Homo sapiens: one gene and its partners. The protein of the gene in region 2 purifies or fractionates together with the protein of the main gene of each other region. This does not show direct contact. Each region holds a gene or a part of one and is shown on either strand. Other genes may lie near its edges.

Region 1 (7,026 bases), on a different chromosome or scaffold from region 2:
AAGAATGAAGTACTGATACGTGCTACAAAATGAATGAACCTTGAGAACATTATGCCAAGTGAAAGAAGCCAGACACGAAAGGCCACATATTGTCTGATCCTATTTATATAAAATGTCCAGAATAGGTAAATCCAGAGCACAAAGTGGGTTAAGGGTTGCCTAGGGCTGGAGGGTGTGGGAGTAAATGGGGATTAACTGCCAATGGTGCAGGGTTTCTTTCTGGGGTGATAAAAATGTTCTAAAATATGTTACAGTGATGGTTATACAACTTTGTGAATATATCATACTAAAAACCATAGAATTTTACACTAAAAATGGGTGAATTTGATCATATGTGAACTATATGATATACTCTTTAAAAAATATATTTAAATTCCTCTTATGTCTCCCTATTGATTAGAAGGAAAAGTTGCCACCTCTCTGACCCTTCTTCTGCAGCCACATCTCCCTCTGACCATAATCAAGAAGTACTCCTTGCATTTATGAACTCATGTCATTAGATCGGGCCCATCCAGATAAATCTGAGATAATCCTCACATCTTACAGGTCTTACCTATAATCATACCTGCAGAGTCCCTTATGGCATGGAAGGTGATGTATTCATAGGTTCTGGGAGATTAGGATGTTGACATTTTGAGGAACCATTATCCTGCCTATCATACCCTGTTTTATACTTCTTTCTATTGCATAAGAGTCTCACACATGTTGACAGATGGATGGAAAAAATATATTATGCAGGTACTAACAGCAGCAACAATGACAGCTAAAAACTGAGCTATCTATACATCAGATAAAGTAGATTTAAAGGAGGAAAGCACTATTAGAATTAAAGAGGGAGTTTTCAAAATAATTATCCAGTCATAGAAGAGATTTTTAACATACCTCTCTCAGTAACTGATAGAACAAGCAAACAAACAAAAATGTCCATAAAGATATAAAAGATTTGAACACCATAGTTAACAAACTTGACCTAAATGATATACAGAGCATTGAGCCCAACAACTTCAGACTACATGTTTTTTACATTGGTGCTTGGATAATTCATAGTCCGTATTAGAAATGAAAATGTTGAATATCTGTTATTCAAAAGGTTATAAAAAAAATAACAAATTAAGCCCAAAGAAAATAAAAGGAGGGAAATAATAAAGATAAAAGAAGTTAATGAAATAGAAAACAAACATACTACAGATAGGATCTACAAGGCCAAAAGTTTGTTGTTTGAAAAGACCAATAAAATCAGGCCAGGTGCGGTGACTCACGCCTGTAATCCCAGCACTTTGGGAGGCCAAGGCGGGCGGATCATGAGGTCAGGAGTTCCAGACCAGCCTGGCCAACATGGTGAAACTCTGTCTCTACTAAAAATACAAAAAATTAGCTGGGCATGGTGGCATGCACCTGTAATCCCAGCTACTCAGGAGGCTGAGGCAGGAGAATTGCTTGAACTCCAGAGGCAGAGGTTGCAGTGAGCCAAGATCGCACCACTGCACTCCAGCCTGGGTGACAGAGCAAGACTCCATCTAAAAAAAAAAAAAAAAAAAGACTAATAAAATCAATTAAACACTAGCAAAACGTATCTTGGGAAAAAATGAAAAGCATGAATTGCCAATATCAGGAATAAACAGGCAATATTACTACAGATGCTACAAACATTTAAAAGATAATACAAAACAAAAGTTCACATGTACTACACAAATTCCTAATAAAATACAAGTTATCAAAACTGACAAAGGGAGAAATAGAAGATCTAAATGGTCCTATACCTGCTCAGGAAATTAAATCAATAATTTCAAACCTTCCCACAAAGAAAACTCTAGGCCTAGATGGCTTTACCAACAAACTCTTTTTTGTGGATGAATAGTATTCCATTGTGTCTATATATCACATTTTCTTTATCCATTCATCTATTGATGGACACTTAGGTTGATTCCATATCTTGACTATTATAAATAGTGTTGCAATAAACATGGAGGTGCAGGTAACCCTTTAGTATACCGATTTCCTTTCGTTTGGATAAATACCTAGTGGTGGGATTACTGCACTGTATGGTAGTTCTATTTTTAATTTTTTGAGGAACCTCCATACTGTCTTCCATAATACCTTTACTAATTTACACTCCCACCAACAGTACACACATACATTTTTAAAGCATAAAACAGTGCTATATATTATCCCTTGGCACATATGTATTCTGCATTTTAAAATGGCTGAAGGATGCACTGAAGTCACAATAGCAGCAGCCTCTAGAGGAGTAAATGAAAGGACAGGGTTTGAGGATAAGAACAAAGGAGACTTCAACTTCATTTTTATTGTCCAGTTTCTTTTATTTTTTTTAAAAAAAGGCAAACATGGTAAAATGTTAACATCTGTTCATTTTGGGTGATGGCTCATAGGGTGTTAGTCATATTATTCTTTGTAATTTTCCCTTTGTTTAATTTCTCAAAATGAAAACAATAAAGTCAAGATAATAGTATCTTTCATAGTTTAGTCTTAGGCTTATTTATTGTTTAGGTATTTTATGTTCCTGTTTGTCTTAAGAAAAAAATGTGTATAAATATAAGTATAGATGAGATAGTTAAATTTCCTTTTTTTGTTTGTGTTCACAAAACATGCTTGTTTTATTTAACATTCTTTGGTATCAAAATGTGGCCTTCATACAAACTTGTGAGGAGTAAACCATGAGGGTTCACAGTTTTACCACAGTCTGTATGTTAGCAACCATTTCCTGTGATAGACATGCTCATGCACCTCAAGTACTAGAAGTATCCATTTGTATTGGAGCCAAAATATCCGCAAGCAGAGAAACAAGAAGTCAAAAATATTTTCCTCTTTGGTGCTAAAGATTTGCTGCTGTGTGATTGTTGAGACTGAAGTTCTGAAAGCACCAGTGTTTGCCGGATCTGTCTCCAGCTTGTCTCTACAAGGTCATTTCCAAAAGACTGTCAAAAGAATGGCATGTCCCGCCTTTTCCACCACCGACACACCCTGCATGAAAACCCCAGGAGCACAGAAGTCCTGCTTGGGTGAGGATAAGGGCTCTCTCAAAGTCTATTATCGAAGGAAGGCAGACAGATGGGTTAACCACTCCAATGGAGTCTATACTTTTACAGACATATCACATATTATGACAATTAATTATTAGGCTGGTGGTTCAGCAACCTTTCGAAGTGATCCCAAGATGATTGCTGTGACCATATTTGAAAAGCTAACAGATAAATGTGGGCTTAAAACAGACTATATGTTATTCAGCTAGGCCTCAACCATAGGCATAAGTAGGAGTGAGGTGAGGGCCCTTGTGGACCCACCAGGGTCTTCCACAAGAGTAGAACTCTTGCCTTGTTCACTCCTTTCATAATCAGGCAAAGGAAGGAGTTATTCAAAAGGAGGAACTGAGCATGTTCAACCGAGACCCTTTTTGCTGTCCAATTTCCAGCCAGCCTGTCACCTGGATATATGTAAGCACTCTGGTCTGCTCTTGGCTGTGTGCTCTAAGGGAGCCCACTGGGTGTTCAGCAAGATCAATGGTGAGGATTAAATCTTTCTAAGTCAAGGGTCAGTTACAAACAAGATCTCTCTGCTACAGATCTGAAGCTGTATTCTCTCCAGTCAATTTTGTCAGTAACAAAAGCAGTATTTTTTGTTCCATCTGTCTATCTTCTACCTCTTAATTGGTTTCAAACTTAAGAGGTGGTAGAGATTAGTAATTGCTCCCCACAAAAGCAAAAAACCAACCTGATGATCAATTAAGATCTCAAAAATGATAAATTAATATAATCCATGATACCAGCCAAAAATTTGTATACCAAATTTGTTCTTACCCCCATAGTTATCCTGTCTGAATAGTTAACTGAGCACTGCTCACTTTTAGATTCCTTAAGAGTTGTTAAAAAATAAGTCTTTGTACTCTATCATGGCATGCATGAACTCTCATAGCTTGAAATGACTGCATGAAAATGTACATTTTATAATTTCTTATACTATTTACATAGGTATAAGTATACACAGAAAGTGTGTTTAAATGTTTAACAGCCAAAAACAAAAACCAAAAAAAAGTCACTCTGCTGTAACAGAACACTGTTCTGCATATGGCTAGCTGTACATTGGCAGAACATAGCGATTTTAAGGATGAATTAGTGTTGTAATCTCTTTGGGATTTCCTTTATATTTGCGGTGGTTTATGACTGACATTTCATGTAACTATAGCTTTCTGTTTGGATTTAATAAAAGATTCATTTCTGTGGCAAGATACACATTTGCACTCCAGTGTTGAATAAAAGCTACTGTTCTGCAAGGGTATAAAATGCTGATTTATAACAACACGTTCCAATAACAGTGATCTAATTCTTTCAAACTATTTCTTCCCAGGTCCCAGGAACAGCATGGCTCCAGCAAAGGATGACTCTTCTCTTCCAGAATATTCAGCCTTTAACACATCTGTCCATGCTGCAATTAGACATGGAAATTGGAAACTCCTCACGGGCTACCCAGGTAGAGTCCTTAGCTTAGCAAACTTCCCTTCCCGTGGTAGACAAAGCAGGGCTGTGTCCTCAGGGCAGTATCTCCAGTCTATCTGCCCTCCTGGGATTTGATTCCCACGGCCATTTCTCTGGAAAGAGAGGACATTATCACTCTTGTTCTAACCGTTTCCCACCTCTTCCTCTGTGGCTCCTCCTCAAGGCCCCTAAGCCCTACCACTTACCTCACTTTGCTCAGATACCTGAAATCTTAATTTGTCTTTCTAATCTTTCATGATCCCTCCTGATATATGTCCTAGAAAGACAACTATTTATTCAGGGTTTTCTTTTCCCAATTCTAAGACTCCGCCTGTTCCCAATTACACAGCTTCCATCATTGTCATGGTGCAAGTAAGCTTTCCCAGTGGATCATCAAGGAGAAGCTTACCGAAGTAACAAATGCCTTTTGCAAAACATATCTCTGGGGCTGCTGAATGAGGAGATAGGAAGAAATGGTTTAACCTACTCGTCCTAACCAAAAAAAAAAAAAAAAAAAAAAAAAGAGAGAGAGAGAGAAAGACAGAGAGAATTAACTGTAGCAGGGGTGAAAGGAAGAAATGTCACTCTTATGCTTCATGGAAAATACGGATTTTAAATATATGTGGCTATCAAGCACAGCACATTTAGCTAACAAAGAGAGTCTCTGAGAGCTACACCCTCAACCAGTGGTATAGCTGGGGAAGGAGGTTGCTCCTCTGATTATATTCTCTAAGAGTGATATCTTTTCAATACTTTTAAAATATGTGGGATGATGGTTAAGGCTGTGATGTAATTAATCAATGTTTACAATGAGAACATTTTTGGCGTTTGCAATATGACAAGTCTTTTTTGACTGGGATTGTCCCATGTATTGCAAGACTTTAGCATCACTAGCTCATGCCCACTAAATGCCAGGAGCACCCCTATGCCCTAGTCCTTGTGACAAGGACATACACACATGCACACACGTTTCTGGGTGTCCTTGCTTGTGAAGCAGTGAGACATGTCTAGTTAAAGCACCAGAAGTCAAGTCTGAGAAGCATCTAGAGACAGCATCTAGGGCCGCATCTTTTTATGTTTCCACACCCACAACCCAGTGCAGCCTTGGCCTCAGACTCCTTCCCTGAAATTAGAACCTGCCTCTGTGCTTCTCCCTCAGTAAACTGTTTTGTTTTCTTTGCTAGGCTGTGGTTACTGGTTCCCTCCACCGTCTCAATACAATGTTTCTGAGATACCCTCATCAGACCCACCAACCAAGACCCTCTGGCTCTTTGATATTGATCGGGACCCTGAAGAAAGACATGACCTGTCCAGAGAATATCCTCACATCGTCACAAAGCTCCTGTCCCGCCTACAGTTCTACCATAAACACTCAGTCCCCGTGTACTTCCCTGCACAGGACCCCCGCTGTGATCCCAAGGCCACTGGGGTGTGGGGCCCTTGGATGTAGGATTTCAGGGAGGCTAGAAAACCTTTCAATTGGAAGTTGGACCTCAGGCCTTTTCTCACGACTCTTGTCTCATTTGTTATCCCAACCTGGGTTCACTTGGCCCTTCTCTTGCTCTTAAACCACACCGAGGTGTCTAATTTCAACCCCTAATGCATTTAAGAAGCTGATAAAATCTGCAACACTCCTGCTGTTGGCTGGAGCATGTGTCTAGAGGTGGGGGTGGCTGGGTTTATCCCCCTTTCCTAAGCCTTGGGACAGCTGGGAACTTAACTTGAAATAGGAAGTTCTCACTGAATCCTGGAGGCTGGAACAGCTGGCTCTTTTAGACTCACAAGTCAGACGTTCGATTCCCCTCTGCCAATAGCCAGTTTTATTGGAGTGAATCACATTTCTTACGCAAATGAAGGGAGCAGACAGTGATTAATGGTTCTGTTGGCCAAGGCTTCTCCCTGTCGGTGAAGGATCATGTTCAGGCACTCCAAGTGAACCACCCCTCTTGGTTCACCCCTTACTCACTTATCTCATCACAGAGCATAAGGCCCATTTTGTTGTTCAGGTCAACAGCAAAATGCCTGCACCATGACTGTGGCTTTTAAAATAAAGAAATGTGTTTTTATCGTAATTTATTTCCCCCCAGCCATTGCTCACTCTGTCTAGACTTCCTGCCACTTCCAATTCTTCTGTGGCTTTTCCTGCCTTTCCTTTTGACCTCAGTAGTCCTATCCCTGGGAAGGCCACTTTGCTTCTCTACCTGAGCACCCCTGATTTCTGGAACGCTGCTGAGCCCTGCCTTACTTTTGCCCCTAGGGCTGAAGCTAGAGGCCTCCCCGTAATAGGCGGTGGAGTTGCTCTGTGAGGATGTTCATGGTAGACACTAAGAGGGCTGGGTGGGAGATGCTTGGCTCTGTGGCATCTGTTCAGCGAGGCTTTTCCTATATTGCATGGAGTTAGTCATTGTGATTGTAGCTTTATTTCATAATATATTAAGACTTGCACTGCTATTTACTAGCAGTGAGAAGAAACCTCAGGAAAGGATATGAAAAAGCAAGTGGCCAGTGTCTGGGATACTGGGCCTTGGTAAAGCAG
Region 2 (7,047 bases):
GAACGCGACGAAAGTGCAGCCGAAAAACACCGCAGCCCCCATGGCTGGTCAGGTGGGAAGGGGGGTGGGGGCCTGACCAGGACAGGCAAATGGGAGGGGCGCGCCAGCTGGGGAGTCCGCGTGGGGTGGCAACGCGACCCCACGAGGGGCGCGGTGCAATGTCACCCCCAGACCCCGGGGAAGGGGAAGGGGGGGAACCGAAACCCCAAATGAAGGTCCGCGCCACTTCCTCTACGGAAGCCGAAGAGGGGACAAATCCCGGCCGCAGCCCCACGGCCACCTCCCATCTAATCCCCACCCCCGGAAGGCCAATGGAGAATCAGCGCGGGCGGAGCTGCTCGACCTGCTGGGAGTTGTAGTCGCCTTCCGAGGCCTTGACTTCGTCCTGGGAGTGGCTCGAGCCGGTTAATGGGGGTGGGCCGGGAATGGACCAGTCGAGACACCAATTCCAGGGTTCGGTTGCGCTTCCGTCGCTGTTTCCTTTCGTCACTTTGTGGGGAAAAGTGGTAGCAATCATACCTCTTCTTGAAGGGCTGCAGAGGGGGTAGATCCTGTTTGAATCTAAGGGACAAATACAAAGAGAGCACAGGATGGGGCGCAGGGAGATAGGGACGGGTATTGTTCTTACTTGAATGAGAGGAAATGGGCTAGAGCTGCTGCCTAAGAGATGAAGATTACATTAAAAAGTAGGAGCTCTTCGGACAGACTAGTATAATAAACATGGAATACAGTATATCGCTAATGAAGCCTTCATCTGTAATGACAAGAGAATCGGAGAGAAGCAAAAGGAGCCTGGAGAGAAATGTTAGGAAGGCATTTTGAAAGAGTCCGGGAGTTTAAAAGCAATTAGAGCGATGGGGTTGAAGGAAAACGACACCCCCACCCCACCCCCGCCATAAATTCCTTTTATGTCATACTTCCTCTATTTATTTTCTGAAAAATGAACCTCAGTGGTGCGTTTTCCTGAGGCTGAGAGGGGTTGTATATTAGAGTGAATGAAAGTTAAAGTAGGCTGAGCGCGGTGGCTCACCCCTGTAATCCCAGCACTTTGGGAGGCCAGGAGTTTGAGACCAGCCTGGCCAACATGGCGAAACCCCATCTCTACTAAAAATACAAAAATTAGCCAGATGTGGTGGCGCACGCCTGTAATCCCAGCTACCTGGGAGGCTGAGGGGCAAATATAGCTTGAACCCAAGAGGCAGAGGTGGCAGTGAGCTGAGATTGCGCTACTGCACTACAGCCTGGGCAACGGAGTGAGGTTCTGTCTCAAAAAAGAAAAAGAAAGTTAAGTAGGAGAGGAGGGTATTGTAATCTCATTTGGATGGGGAGAGGTTAGTCCTTAGGGAAGATGTTAGGCAAAGGAATCTGAGGATGGAAAAGAGGAAAGAAATCTGGAATATTGTTTTTGAAAGCATAATCAAAGTACCAAAAAAAACCCCACAGAAATTGTTTAAAGATAACCAAACTTCCTTTCCTTCCTGGAAGTGATTTATTATTTAATCCATATGTGCACACTCACATACATGTTTTACATGTCTTCCAGGATATTCTGGAAAGGAGCTGAGGAATAGATTGTATAGATTTACACGGAGGCTGGTCACAGTGGCTCATGCCTGTAATCCCAGCACTTTCGGAGGCCAAGGCGGCTGGATCACTTGAGGTCAGGAGTTTGAGACTAGCCTGGCCAGTGTGGTAAAACCCCATCTCTACTAAAAATACAAAAAATTAGCCAGGCATGGTGGTGCGCACCTGTAGTCCCAGCTACTCAGGAGGCTGAGCCACGAGAATAGCTTGAATCTGAGAGGTGGAGGTTACAGTGAGCTGAGATCCCACCACTGCACTCCAACCTGGGCGACAGAGCAAGACTCTGTCTCTGAAAAAAAAGAAAGAAAATATTTACATGGAAAGTCACCAGGCAAATTATTCCCTAATGAGACTAAGAGGGTAGCTGGGCGCAGTGGCTCACGCCTGTAATCCCAGCACTTTGGGAGGTCGAGGCAGGCAGATCACGAGGTCAGGAGATCGAGACCATCCTGGCTAACACGATGAAACCCCGTTTCTACTAAAAATACAAAAAATTAGCCAGGCGTGGTGGCGGGCGCCTGTAGTCCCAGCTACTCAGGAGGCTGAGGCAGGAGAATGGCGTGAACCCAGGAGGCGGAGCTTGCAGTGAGCCGAGATCGTGCCACTGCACTCCAGCCTGGGCAACAGAGTGAGACTCCGTCTCAAAAAAAAAAAAAAAAAAATTAAGAGGGTAGCGTTATCATGACCTGTGTTCAAGACTCCAGTATGTCCTGCTTCTGAGCCCAGCAGGCAGAGTAAGGTGGATAGGAATGAGACAATTCTCATGTCTTTTTTTTTTGAGATGGAGTCTCACTCTGTTGCCTAGACTGGAGTACAGTGGTGCTATCTCGGCTCACTGCAACCTCTGCCTCCCAGGTTCAAGTGATTCTCCTGCTTCAGCCTCCCTAGTAGCTGGGATTACTGGCGCCTGCCACCAAGCCCAGCTAATTTTTGTATTTTTAGTAGAGACAAGGTTTCACCATGTTGGCCAGGCTGATCTCCTGACCTCAGGTGATCTGTCCGCCTAAGCCTCCCAAAGTACTGGGATTACAGGCGTGAGCCACTGTGGCCAGCTTCATCTCTCCATTGAGCTGTTACCACAGCATCTTCTGACCATTGACAGGAGGCTGTAAACCTATCTTGTTCATGGGTGTTTCCACAGACACTTGCATAGTGCCTGACTCATAGTAGATGTTGAGCAGATACTTATTAACTTCCCTTAAGAACAAAGCAAAACTGTCTTTTCTTATTCCCTTGCCTATAAGCTCTCAATTGCCTATCACACTAGGCCTAGCACACTGTGCCTAGCACGTATGTTGCTAAGGGTTTCTGAATTGAATGAACATGGGAAACATAAAAGCAGAGGAAAGGATAAAAACTCTACACCTGTAGGACGGAATGAAGGGAACATACCAAGTGACTGAATGTGGGAGGGAAGGTGTGGCACCTGTAGCAGGGAAAGAGACTATCTGCTTTCTCCCTTCTTCCAACCTGCATCCTGGAAGTTGAGAAAGAGATGAGGTGAGGCCGGGCACGGTGGCTCATGCCTGTAATCCCAGTACTTTGGGAGGCCAAGACAGGTGGATCATCTGAGGTCAGGAGTTCGAGACCAGCCTGGGCCAACATGGTGAAACCCCGTCTCTACTAAAAATACAAAACTTAGCTGGGCATGGTGGCACGCGCCTGTAGTCCCAGCTACCAGGGAGGCTGAGGCAGGAGAATCACTGGAACCCGGGAGGCAGAGGTTGCAGTGAGCCGAGATCGCGCCACTGCACTCCAACCTGGGTGACAAAGCAAGATTCTGTCTCAAAAAAAAAACAAAGAGGTGAGGTGAGGTCAGTGTTACCAGAAAGGAAATAACTGACCATGGCTGAGAGACTTTTAGCTGAAGCCATGCAGCAGGTGCTTTAAGTCAGACAATGATGGGTAAATATTGTTCCTATTCTCTATAGCTCCAGACAGACAGAAGAAAGGGATTCTTTTCAGTCTAGAAAAATGCTCACCCCTTCCTCAGAACATTTCCACTGTGACGAAAAGAGACTGATGAAGCCTCAGAGAGAAAGGCAACTCTGGGTGGTGATGGTAAGTCAGAGACAGTGAGAGGGAGGGTGAACTTTTTATGAGGCCTTGGAGGAAGGAAGGAAAGCCGGGAGAGGGGAAACTTCTTGGTAGGCTTATTTTTTATTTTTATTTTGGTAGTGACAGTGGGAGTCTTGAATGGATCTAATCTAGGGCAGGGGGAGCTTAAGAAACATGTTTGCATCAAAACCCCCTTTTGCCTCTCAATCTGGGCAGCTCTGGCTGGGGACCGGCAGTAACCGGAGATCTAGTCAGTCAGCCAGTAGGCGGGGAGTTCTGCCCCCTGGGAGGAGAAGAGTTGCTGCAGCTCCTTCCCTGCTTTGGAGGAGGAGGGGAGGCGGGGTAAGTTTGGTGGGAAACTCTGTAATTTCCTTTTTTACTTTCACAGCAATAGTGCAGAATCCAGAATGGATGTCCTCTTTGTAGCCATCTTTGCTGTGCCACTTATCCTGGGTAAGTCCACTCCTCTCTCTGAGCTTTTGTGCCAGGTCTTCTACCATAAATGGGGTGGGAGAAAAAAAATGAGGAGTGGGTGAGAGGTACATTTCAGTGGGGAGCGATAGAGTTTTCTCATCGTGCTGGGGTCCGGTGTTGAGGGCAGAATGGAGATCTGGAAGGCAGAGCCAGGAAAGGGGGAAAAAAGCAGAGTCCTGTCAAACAAGGAGGATGGAGCTCCAGACACAAGGAGGCCCTAGCAACACTGAGCTCAGTTCTCCATCACCACGGAAGTTGAACAAGATGACAGGGGCTAAAGTAAGGGTGAAGGAGGGATTATTGGAAGGTGTCACAGTCTGAAACTAGTAGTTAGGGTATCTCCTTTCCCAGAGAATTGGAGAAAAAAACCTGCTATTAGTAAAGACACAGAAGTGGGGTGACCTTTAGGGTAGTGGAAAACTGGCTGTCTTCAGGGACAGGGTCCCAAGAGTAGCTTGGCTCCTTCCCTCCTTTGTTCCCCAGTCTACCAGGTGTGTCTCATTGTTTCCTTTTCCTCTAGATTCTTGTGTCATTAGCTTGGAGTTGAAGGGAAAGCATTCAAGGAGCTCAGGGAAGTGTTTAGCAGGAGGCCTGGAGTTCTTGATCCAGTCATATCAAAGCCACATATTTTTAGTTCTGAAAGGGAAGAAAAACTAACAGAGATGGGTCATTTTAGTCCAGCTGACTCATTTTAAGAAAGCGGATGTTAAGTGGATTGTTCAGGGTTATTCTGTTAGCAGTGAAGGTGGAACTAAAGCTCAAATCCAAAGCCTAAGGGTGTATGTTAGTTATTTGTAAGAGATACTGATAAGAAAAGATGTCTCACAAATACAGTAAGATCTGGAGCATACTAAATAGAAGACTTGGCGTTTTTAATTCCTGGTCTCTACTTTTCCTACCTTTTTTAGGTCTGGTTCTCCCTTTGGGTTTATAGTATGTGAAGGGGACTGTTTTCTGTTTTAGGAGTTCCTGGATTGAAAGGGCACGGAGTAACAGGCCTCATTACAGATATGGATCCCAGAAGACTGAGAGGGGTGTAGAGGTGCACAGGCAAGAAAGGAGTATGACTATTGGAGGAGAGAGAGAGAGAGAGAAAAGAAAGAAAGAGCAAGAAAGCTGGGAGCGCTGAGGTCATCTCCAGGTGTCCTTTTGTTAGTAAGGTGTTCCAGATGTCCCTTGACCTCTAGTCCTTGTCCCCATAGGACAAGAATATGAGGATGAAGAAAGACTGGGAGAGGATGAATATTATCAGGTGGTCTATTATTATACAGTCACCCCCAGTTATGGTGAGTACATGAAAGGCTCTTGCCCTTAGCCAACTGGAGAGAGGCTTCAGGATATTTAGTTCTGAGACTTTGCTCTTCACTTTGAAGCAGAGCAATGGGGTCAGAGAAAAATCTGGCTATGAACAAAACCTATCAAGACTCATGATGGGGCCGGGCGTGGTGGCTCACACCTGTAATCCCAGCACTTTGGGAGGCTGAGGCGGGCGGATCACGAGGTCAGGAGATCGAGACCATCCTGGCTAACACAGTGAAACCCTGTCTCTACTAAAAATACAAAAAATTAGCCGGGTGTGGTGGCGGGTGCCTGCAGTCCCAGCTACTTGGGAGGCTGAGGCAGGAGAATGGCATGAACCCGGGAGGCAGAGGTTGCAGTGAGCTGAGATCGTGCCACTGCACTCCAGCCTGGGTGACAGAGCAAGACTCCATCTCAAAAAAAAAAAATGAAAAAAGATTTATGATGGGCTGGGCGCAGTGACTCATGCCTGTAATCCCAGCACTTTGGGAGGCTGAGGTGGGTGGATCACCTGCGGTCAGGAGTTTGAGACCAGCCTGGCCAACATGGTGAAACCCTGTCTCTACTAAAAATACAAAAATTAGCTGGGCATGGTGGCACCTGCCTGTAGTCCCAGTTATTCAGGAGGCTGAGGCAGGAGAATCGCTTGAACCTGGGAGGCAGAGGTTGTGGTGAACTGAGATCACACCACTGCACTCCAGCCTGGGCGACAGAATGAGACTACGTCACAAAAAAAAAAAAAGACTCATGATGATGTTATTTTTCCAGATAGTGATTTTTAGATGGGAGGATTGCTTGAGCCCAGGAGTTCAAGACCACCCTGGACATCATAGCAAGACCTTGTCTCTATAGAAAAAAAAATTTTTTTTTTTTGAGACCAAATCTCATGCTGTCACCCAGGCTAGAGTGCAGTGGCACAATCTCAGCTCACTGCAACCTCTGCCTCTCGGCTTCCAGCTATTCTCTTGCCTCAGCCTCCTAGGTAGCTGGGACTACAGGCGTGTGCTACCATGCCCGGCTAATTTTGTATCTTTAGTAGAGACAAGGTGTCACCATGTTGGCCACGCTGGTCTTGAACTCCTGATCTCGTGATCTGCCCACCTCAGCCTCCCAAAGTGCTGGGATTACAGGCTTGAGCCATCGTGCCCGGCCAAATTTTTTTTTTTTTAATTAGCTGGGCATGGTGGCACATGGCTGTAGTCCCAGCTACTCAGGAGGCTGAGGCAGGAGGATCACTTGAGCTCAGGAGCTGGAGGTGGCAGTGAGCTATGATTGAACCAACTGTACTCCAGCCTGTTAACACAGTGAGACCCTGACTCTAAAAAAAGAAGAACTTGAAAATTTTTCAAATTTGTAAATTATTTTAGATACCTACATTGAAAATATAAATGCATACACATTCACAGTCATTTTTAACATTAGTTAAATAAAATTGGATTATACCAATAAATGTTACAACTTAAGTTAAACTATTCTGAGTAATTTCTTCCCTTTTCATTTCCAGATCTAGAGTTACATTTTTCTTTAATTATTACTGATTTTCTTTCTCCTCTGCAGATGACTTTAGTGCAGATTTCACCATTGATTACTCCATATTTGAGTCAGAGGACAGGCTGGTGAGTGAACTCTACA
Region 3 (7,026 bases), on a different chromosome or scaffold from region 2:
TTTACCACCTTGTCCAGGCTAGTTTCAAACTCCTGGACTCAAGCAGTCCTCCCACCTTAGCCTGTCAAAGTGCTGGGATTACAGGCATGAGCCACCACACCTGGCCTATTTTCTGTAATTTTTTAAAGCACTAGTCTGAAATGGTTTCAGGAAATAAACTGCCCAGGTGATTGTGACACAGGGCTGTGTTGGAGAGCTACCAGATGACCCTCAGGAAGGTGATTTGCTGCCCCTCCCTCTGAGGTTCCCTTTATCTCCTCAGAGGTGGGCAGATGATTGTGTCTGTGTGTGTGTATTGTGTGTGTGTCTGTCAGTAGGGTCTAGAGACCCTCTTGTGAGTTGCTGTTACTGTGGTGAGGAGTGGGTGTCTCATAGTTGCTTACGTGGGTGGCTTCCAGTTGGGGGCTGTACATGAAGGGGTCAGATGATAGCCCTGCCTTTCCCCAGTGTCCAGATGGAACTCCTGAGGCCATACAGGTCCCAACACAAAGTGATGTGCAGCTCATGTGTTTTGTTATTCCTGGAAGCTTGACTTTGTAGTGGAAGATTTGTACAGTGTTTTTTTTGTTTTGTTTTTTGTTTTTTGTTGTTGTTGTTGTTAAACCTATTCCATTTTTATTCAATTCGGTAATTGTATCTTTTTTTTTTTTTTAAGATAGAGTCTTGCTCTGTTGCCCAGGCTGGAGTGCAGTGGCGTGATCTCAGCTCACTGAAACCTCTACCTCCTGGGTTCAAGCGATTCTCCTGCCTTAGCCTCCCGAGTAGCTGAGATTACAGGTGCCTGACACCACACCAGCTAACTCTTGTATTTTTAGTAGAGACGGGGTTTCACCATGTTGGCCAGACTAGTCTTGGACTCCTGATTTCAAGTGATCTGCCCGCCTCAGCCTCCCAAAGTGCTGGGATTACAGGCGTGAGCCACTGCGCCCAGCCAATTGTTTGTATCTTAACTGATTGATTACCTAGCCCCACTCATCCCTGGATGGCAGGCAAATATAGATGTCTCTTGAACCCATCTATTTCAGGATTACACATCCTGCAAATTCTTGCTTTCCCAGATGATGGAGGCCACACATTAAGGCATAAGCAAGGTGGGGCCACCAGAGGAAATCTTTCTTTCTGGGCAAGAAGGTGAGCTGCACTTCATCAGGTGAATGATTGAGCCTGGCCCCATATACCCCTGAGATGTGCCCTCTGCCCTCAGTGCATGGCATCATCTCAGAGGCATTTCAGAAGAAAAATAATAGTTTTTTCCTGTTCTAAGGGAATGAAAAGAGTATTTGTTGCACTTAGAAATGTCACGAGGACGCGTGAGTGAGCACATCCCTCTGCTGTGCCTCTGGTGTCCTGGTCTGGCCTGGCAGTCTCAATCACAGAAGCTCTCTTCAGTTACACCTTAGCATTTCCTTGGCCCCCATCTAACTAGTCACCCTCATCCTTATTCCCATCCTAGAGCTCTGCCTTTTCCAGTTGTTTTCCTTTTCAGAAATTCAAGCTTACTTTTCAGCCCTTGTTGTTCCGGTTGGTTGACCCTGGAGCAGGATTTCCGTGCACATACCTTGTTGGCCCTGCCACCCGTGCAGCGGCACAGGACCCCACACTCAAAAGGGCCCGTGCTTGGCTTCATGCTCTGTTCTCACTGTCTTGAAATTTCTGATAATTCTTGAACAAAAGGCCCTACGTTTTCATGTTGCACTTGGGCCTGAAAATTATGTAGCCAGCCCTGAGCCCAAGGGTGAAGTCAGCCCCGGGGTGTGTGCTGGGCAGCAATCTCCTGGGCCCCCTGGCCGAGCTGGGCTGCCTTCCCTGTGGTCAGCTCCTTCAGTCCCCTTCCACCCAGACACTTGCTTAGCTTCAGTTAGCTAAAATATGACCTCTGACTCTTGGCTGATTGCCCAAATTGCTGTCACCCTGACCCAAACTCTTTGGTTTTTGCAAATGCAATCACTTCCATTTTTGCAGCCTGCCCCACCCCCAGCCCATCTCCCTGCAAGATTTACAGAGTAGCAGCTGCTGTCGTCCCTCTGCACACAGACAGCTGACTTGCCTGCTGATTGTGAACATCCCAGTAATCCAAGTGCTAATGGTATTTATTTAGTCCAGCCGGCTTAGCCCTGAACAAGGTTTATTCTCATTTATCGCATCGGAGATGAGCTACGTCCTTAATATCCTTCTGTTGACTTTGAGCACACCAGCGCCACTGATGTCACTTTGAGGCGTGCCAGGCCCCCGCCCCCTTAACTCAGATCCCCAACTGTCAGGACACCTACCTTCCAGCCAGCAGGACTGGTCCCTCCAGGGGTGGGCCGCAGCTCTGGTCCAGAGTCCATAGGCTGGAGGAGGATGGGGCTGCCATACATGATATGTGCTCGAGGCATCCAGGCCAAATAAAGCTGTGCTCTCAAAGATGTGGTCTGGCCTCTTTGTGTAGTGAGCCTACTGTAATTATCTTTTGGCCACAGTGCATTGGCTAGCAGTGTGGCATTTTGGCATTCATTAACTGTTCTGTCTTTTACATGGGTAGTCCTAGCTCTGCCTCACAGGTGAAAACTTGCCCAAGGCCATGAGCCATTCATTGCTTATGAGATTCCCAGCAAGGGTCCTGCAGGCCCTGGTCCTTGCACATCCAGAGGCCTCACTCTGAGCTGTTTTGGTAGTTGCCTCCCCCAGCCCCAGGCTGTGAGCATTTAAAGCCCAAGGCAGAGCTGACTGGCGAGAGGGTCTGTTTCTAGGAGCAGATTCTACCCTTGGTGGGTGATTGCTCAGGAAACCTTCAGCTCTACTGGCCCTGCCTGGATGGACTGAGGAGCAGCTGGAAGCGCAAGCCTCATCTTCCCCCTCTTCCTCTGCTGTGTTTCTTCAACCCCTTGCCTGGGCAGCCCTAAAAGGCCACTTCACAGGGTGGCCTTTTAGGAAACTCCTGAAGCTGTGGGAACCCTGGGGTAAGGCCTGGAGTTCCCAGGGTTCCATGGGTACCTCGTTTAAGCTGATCATGTGAAGAGGCCAGGCAGGGCATGGGCCCAGGGCTGCCAAGGCTGTGCACTGTCACAGCCCATGTTTGGCCCATGGTCCTGCCGTACCCACAGACTTGGCTGTGGGTGAAAACATGAATTTATTGCCTTATGAACCTGATTTCAGCAATTTACAAAAGGTCAGACTTTCTCTTTTCTCTCCGATTTACTTATCTGATGTTGGAGCTCTCTTCTCTCCTACTCTAAATGGGGTGGGAAGAGCCTGCCTGAGGGGGACAGAGTGGGTGGGACTGGGCTGCTGCTGGCTTGGCTGTGGGTGGCTCCCGACCCACATCAGCCCACCTTCTGAAGAGAAGGGACTTCTCTTTGCCCTGGTCACAGTGCAGAAAGTGGAAGGGCTTTGGTTGCCCAGCCCTGGGTGATTAACTGAGGCTGCGATGATGGGGTGCTGTGATGAGCTTTGTGCTGTCTTTGGAGGGCCTTGTCTCTGCTGCTCTGAGGGCCCATGAGGGATGGGACTCCTTGGCAGTGCTCCCAAAGGCTGATGCGATGTCAGATCTCTCAGCCCCCTTGGGGAAGCAGCATTTGATGTTTGTGTGAATCTCTCAGCGTGGTCGTCTTCTCTTCCTGGACCCTCCTGTCATGGGTGAGCGTTCCTTAGGCACATGATGGCAGAGACAGCCCTAATTAGCTCATGCTTTGATGAAACAGCTGCCTGTCTCAAGTCGTGGGGGGCAGGGGAGCAGCTCAGCTCCCAGGCCCCCCTGCGCCAGCGCCTGCCTGCCTATCTGGAGAGGAGCTGTCAGCCTCCCTTCCCCAGGGACTCTGGCCCATCTCCAGGCTGCTCTGCAGACACAGGGGTGGAGTTGCTGTGGGACGGGCTGGCACCCACCCTGTACTTCCTTTCTGGCTGAGAGGCTACAGAGTGACACGTGGTACAAAGGAGCTTTTCTCTTTAGAAAGCTGGCTCAGCGTGCTCGGTCTGCTCTGGACCTTGAAGCTTGTTCCTGGTCAGAATAGAAGTGGGGAGCTATCTTCATTCCATTCAGCCAGCTTTGGGGGCACGCCTGCTGTGTGTCGGGCCCTCTCCTGTACGGTGGCACAGTGTGTCTTTTCTGGGTTTAGGACCAGGAGCCAGCTCCTTCTGATTTGTCTTTGTTTCCTTATACCCTGGCTCACTCTCAAGGACACCGTGAGGGCCCCCTGGCCAGGAGGGTTGGGAGTTAGGAGGAACAGGTGCTTTTTGGGTCTCTGGGAGCTTGTGGTCATGCCAAGGGCAGGCAGCCAGAGGCATGCGGTGGCTTTGGTAGACTGCGGTGTCCTTTGTGGGCTAGTTGGATGGGTGTGACAGCCACCATCTGACTGCTGGCTTGGCCCCTTCACTTGTTGTTGGCCTCAGGCTTTTGTGTGCCTGTCCCCTCTTTTCTCTGGGGCCTCACATGTGGGCTGCTGAGAGGGGAGCCCTGACCTGCCCAAGGGCCTGACTATCTGGTCCCTGTGCTTGACACTTGCTCCTTAATTGATCCCTAATGCAATCTTGAAAAGCAAGGAGCCTGCAAAAGGGCATCCTGTGAGGGATCCCGGCCTTGTCCCCTGCATGGCACCCTGCCCTGATGGGGGTCCCCGCCAGGCCCCTCATCCCTTCATCTGGGAGGTCTGGGCCTGAAATGTTTTAATCACATCACTATTTCTCTAGCCCAGAATGGGGAGAGGAGTTCCAGAGGCAGCTCAGGGTTTTGAGTACTTTAGTGCAGTATGTTTATCTATTGATATGTTCATGGTTGTGTACACGTGTTGTTCATTCGTTCGTTCGTTCAGTCGTTCATTCATTCCCTACTGTCCAGGGACCTGTGACGTGGCAGGCTCTGTGCTGAGTGCTGAGAATACAGGGCAGAGAAGCTGACAGTAGCTGCTGTTATAGAGTGGGAGCCCAGTGGGAGGCATTGGGTTGTCCTGTTTTAGGATCTGCCTGGGTATTCAGAGGCTCCTGTCTCTTGCACTTTCTTCCTGCCTTCTCCCGCAAGCATTTTCTATGTGCAGTCTGAGTGCCGACCCAGGAGAGGAGAGGGATGGGGCCCTGGCCTTGGGGCACCAGACCCAGAGGGGAACAGACCCATTAGTAATTGCCCCAGTGTGTGATGTGCTTGGGTCATGGAGGAAGGAACATCCGGCACTGGCTTGGGAAGCGCCAAGAAAGGCTTCCTACGGGAGGGACGCTGAAGGAGCACCTTCGGCATCGAAATGTCTTTACAGTAGTAGAGGTTGTTCACCTTCCCAGCCCACTCCAGCCCCTTGGCTGCTGGGGAGTGGGGGCTGGCATGGGAGCACTCAGCCCTGTCACCTGTGCTGTGGGCCGCTGTTCCCACGTGGGTCTGTGCCAGATGGTCTTTGTTTCCCCAGCTGAGTTTGACTTGCCCCGTGTGGGAACCTCTGTTGTTCTTGTTTCTCCCCAGGGATGGCTGACATGGGCTCAGTTCCCTGACCATCCGATCCCTGGGCTGGGCAGGGTAGTCATGCTGTCCTGTGCTTCTTCCCCAGCAACCCCAAGGTCCAGGTGGAGGCCATCGAAGGGGGAGCCCTGCAGAAGCTGCTGGTCATCCTGGCCACGGAGCAGCCGCTCACTGCAAAGAAGAAGGTGTGTTTCCATGCCCTTCCTCCTGCCCAGCCTCCAGGACACGTGTGGGGCCTGAAAGGAAAGGGTTCCTGTCCAGGCTGTGCATGTTACCATGGGGGCCTGAGCATCATCTGCTGGGTGGCACAGGGGGAGAAGTTACACTCAACTAAAGCAGATGGCAGTGTGCCGAGGTGACTAGAGGCCTGGGGGCAGCTCCTGTGCTGTGGCCTTGGGCCCTACTCCTGGCCTCCCACCCTTGGCCTCTGTTTACCTCCCATTTACTCACTTGGTAATGTTGAAGGTGTCTGAGTCCCTCCTGGCCTCACAGTCCTGGGTTCTGGGGTATAGCTGTAACTGAGGTGGGGCCGGGAGGAATGGGGACTAATTTGGGGCACCTCTGCCTGCCTTCCCTGGGCCTCAGGGCAGGTCCAGCTCGCTTGGCCCCTCACCTACCCCTGGGTCTGTGCCCCCAGGTCCTGTTTGCACTGTGCTCCCTGCTGCGCCACTTCCCCTATGCCCAGCGGCAGTTCCTGAAGCTCGGGGGGCTGCAGGTCCTGAGGACCCTGGTGCAGGAGAAGGGCACGGAGGTGCTCGCCGTGCGCGTGGTCACACTGCTCTACGACCTGGTCACGGAGAAGGTGAGTGCCCAGGCCCACCCAGTCTCCTCTTGTTTGCTTTGTGTGTGCTTCTGGGTGGATGGACAGACAGATGGAAGAGACTGCGGACGTCACTTGTTTGCTTTGTGTGTGCTTCTGGATGGATGGACAGACAGACAGTTGGAAGAGATTGGGGACGTCAGGGAGTATGTCATGTGAGATGTGGTGGCTAAGCTGAAACCTGAGGGCTGATGAGGAGTGGGAGGTGGCCCTGCCAGCCATGGTCACGGCCAAGTGTGCAGGCAGAGGGCTCAGTATGAGGCAAGCCTTGGAGCAGCCGAGACCAGGCCCCGAGGGGACAAAAGGCTGAGGGGGTAGAACAGCCCAGAGCTCCTTCGAATGGCACTCACTCTTCGGATTCTAGAAACGTGGAGGTGCCTCCTCTGTGAGCTTTGGCTCTGGGCAGGGCCTCAGAGTGGCTGCCCTTGAGAGTCTCAGGGACCCAATTGCTTGCCACTTGGGAGGAGACTTGGTGCCCAGCCCTGTTTGCAAGCTTGAAGAAGCATCTTAATTAAGGAGGAGAGAGGAAAACCAGCCAGGCCTGGATTCTTAATTCAGCTACTGCAGAGAGCATTGGCAGGGCTTCCTCAGTTGCCTCTCTCGGGCCACACGCTCCCCAGAAGAGCCGCATGCCGACTAGTGGAGCAGGGCTGGGCAGCCGCTGGAACTGCTGCCGAATGGTGGAGGCTGGGCCCCTCACTCCCTCTGCACACGCCTCCCCCAGGCCTTCTCTCCCAGGCAGTGTCGGGATGGCTGTGGCCACCTCTGTCCATCACTGTCTCTC

What was found. Proteins that work in one complex are often made in the same cells at the same time.
Region 1: the proteins of C1orf54 (region 2) and ARSB purify together in Homo sapiens (co-immunoprecipitation; 2 studies listed by BioGRID and IntAct, with this or other methods). This does not show direct contact.
Region 3: the proteins of C1orf54 (region 2) and SIL1 purify together in Homo sapiens (co-immunoprecipitation; 2 studies listed by BioGRID and IntAct, with this or other methods). This does not show direct contact.

What each region holds. Positions count from the first base shown.
Region 1 is NC_000005.10:78,779,311-78,786,336, reverse strand, and holds part of ARSB (arylsulfatase B isoform 1 precursor), read left to right. Parts: intron 1-2,839; exon of another isoform or gene 2,840-3,020; intron 3,021-4,362; coding exon 4,363-4,485; intron 4,486-5,674; coding exon 5,675-5,940; 3' UTR 5,941-7,026. UniProt on the Homo sapiens protein: Removes sulfate groups from chondroitin-4-sulfate (C4S) and regulates its degradation. Involved in the regulation of cell adhesion, cell migration and invasion in colonic epithelium.
Region 2 is NC_000001.11:150,268,769-150,275,815, forward strand, and holds the start of C1orf54 (uncharacterized protein C1orf54 isoform b precursor), read left to right. Parts: upstream 1-4,021; 5' UTR 4,022-4,049; coding exon 4,050-4,095; intron 4,096-5,318; coding exon 5,319-5,402; intron 5,403-6,972; coding exon 6,973-7,031; intron 7,032-7,047. Other genes in the region: APH1A (gamma-secretase subunit APH-1A), read right to left, coding at 1-42; uncharacterized protein LOC124904414, read right to left, coding at 288-561.
Region 3 is NC_000005.10:138,950,369-138,957,394, reverse strand, and holds part of SIL1 (nucleotide exchange factor SIL1 precursor), read left to right. Parts: exon of another isoform or gene 1-5,510; coding exon 5,511-5,607; intron 5,608-6,059; coding exon 6,060-6,224; intron 6,225-7,026.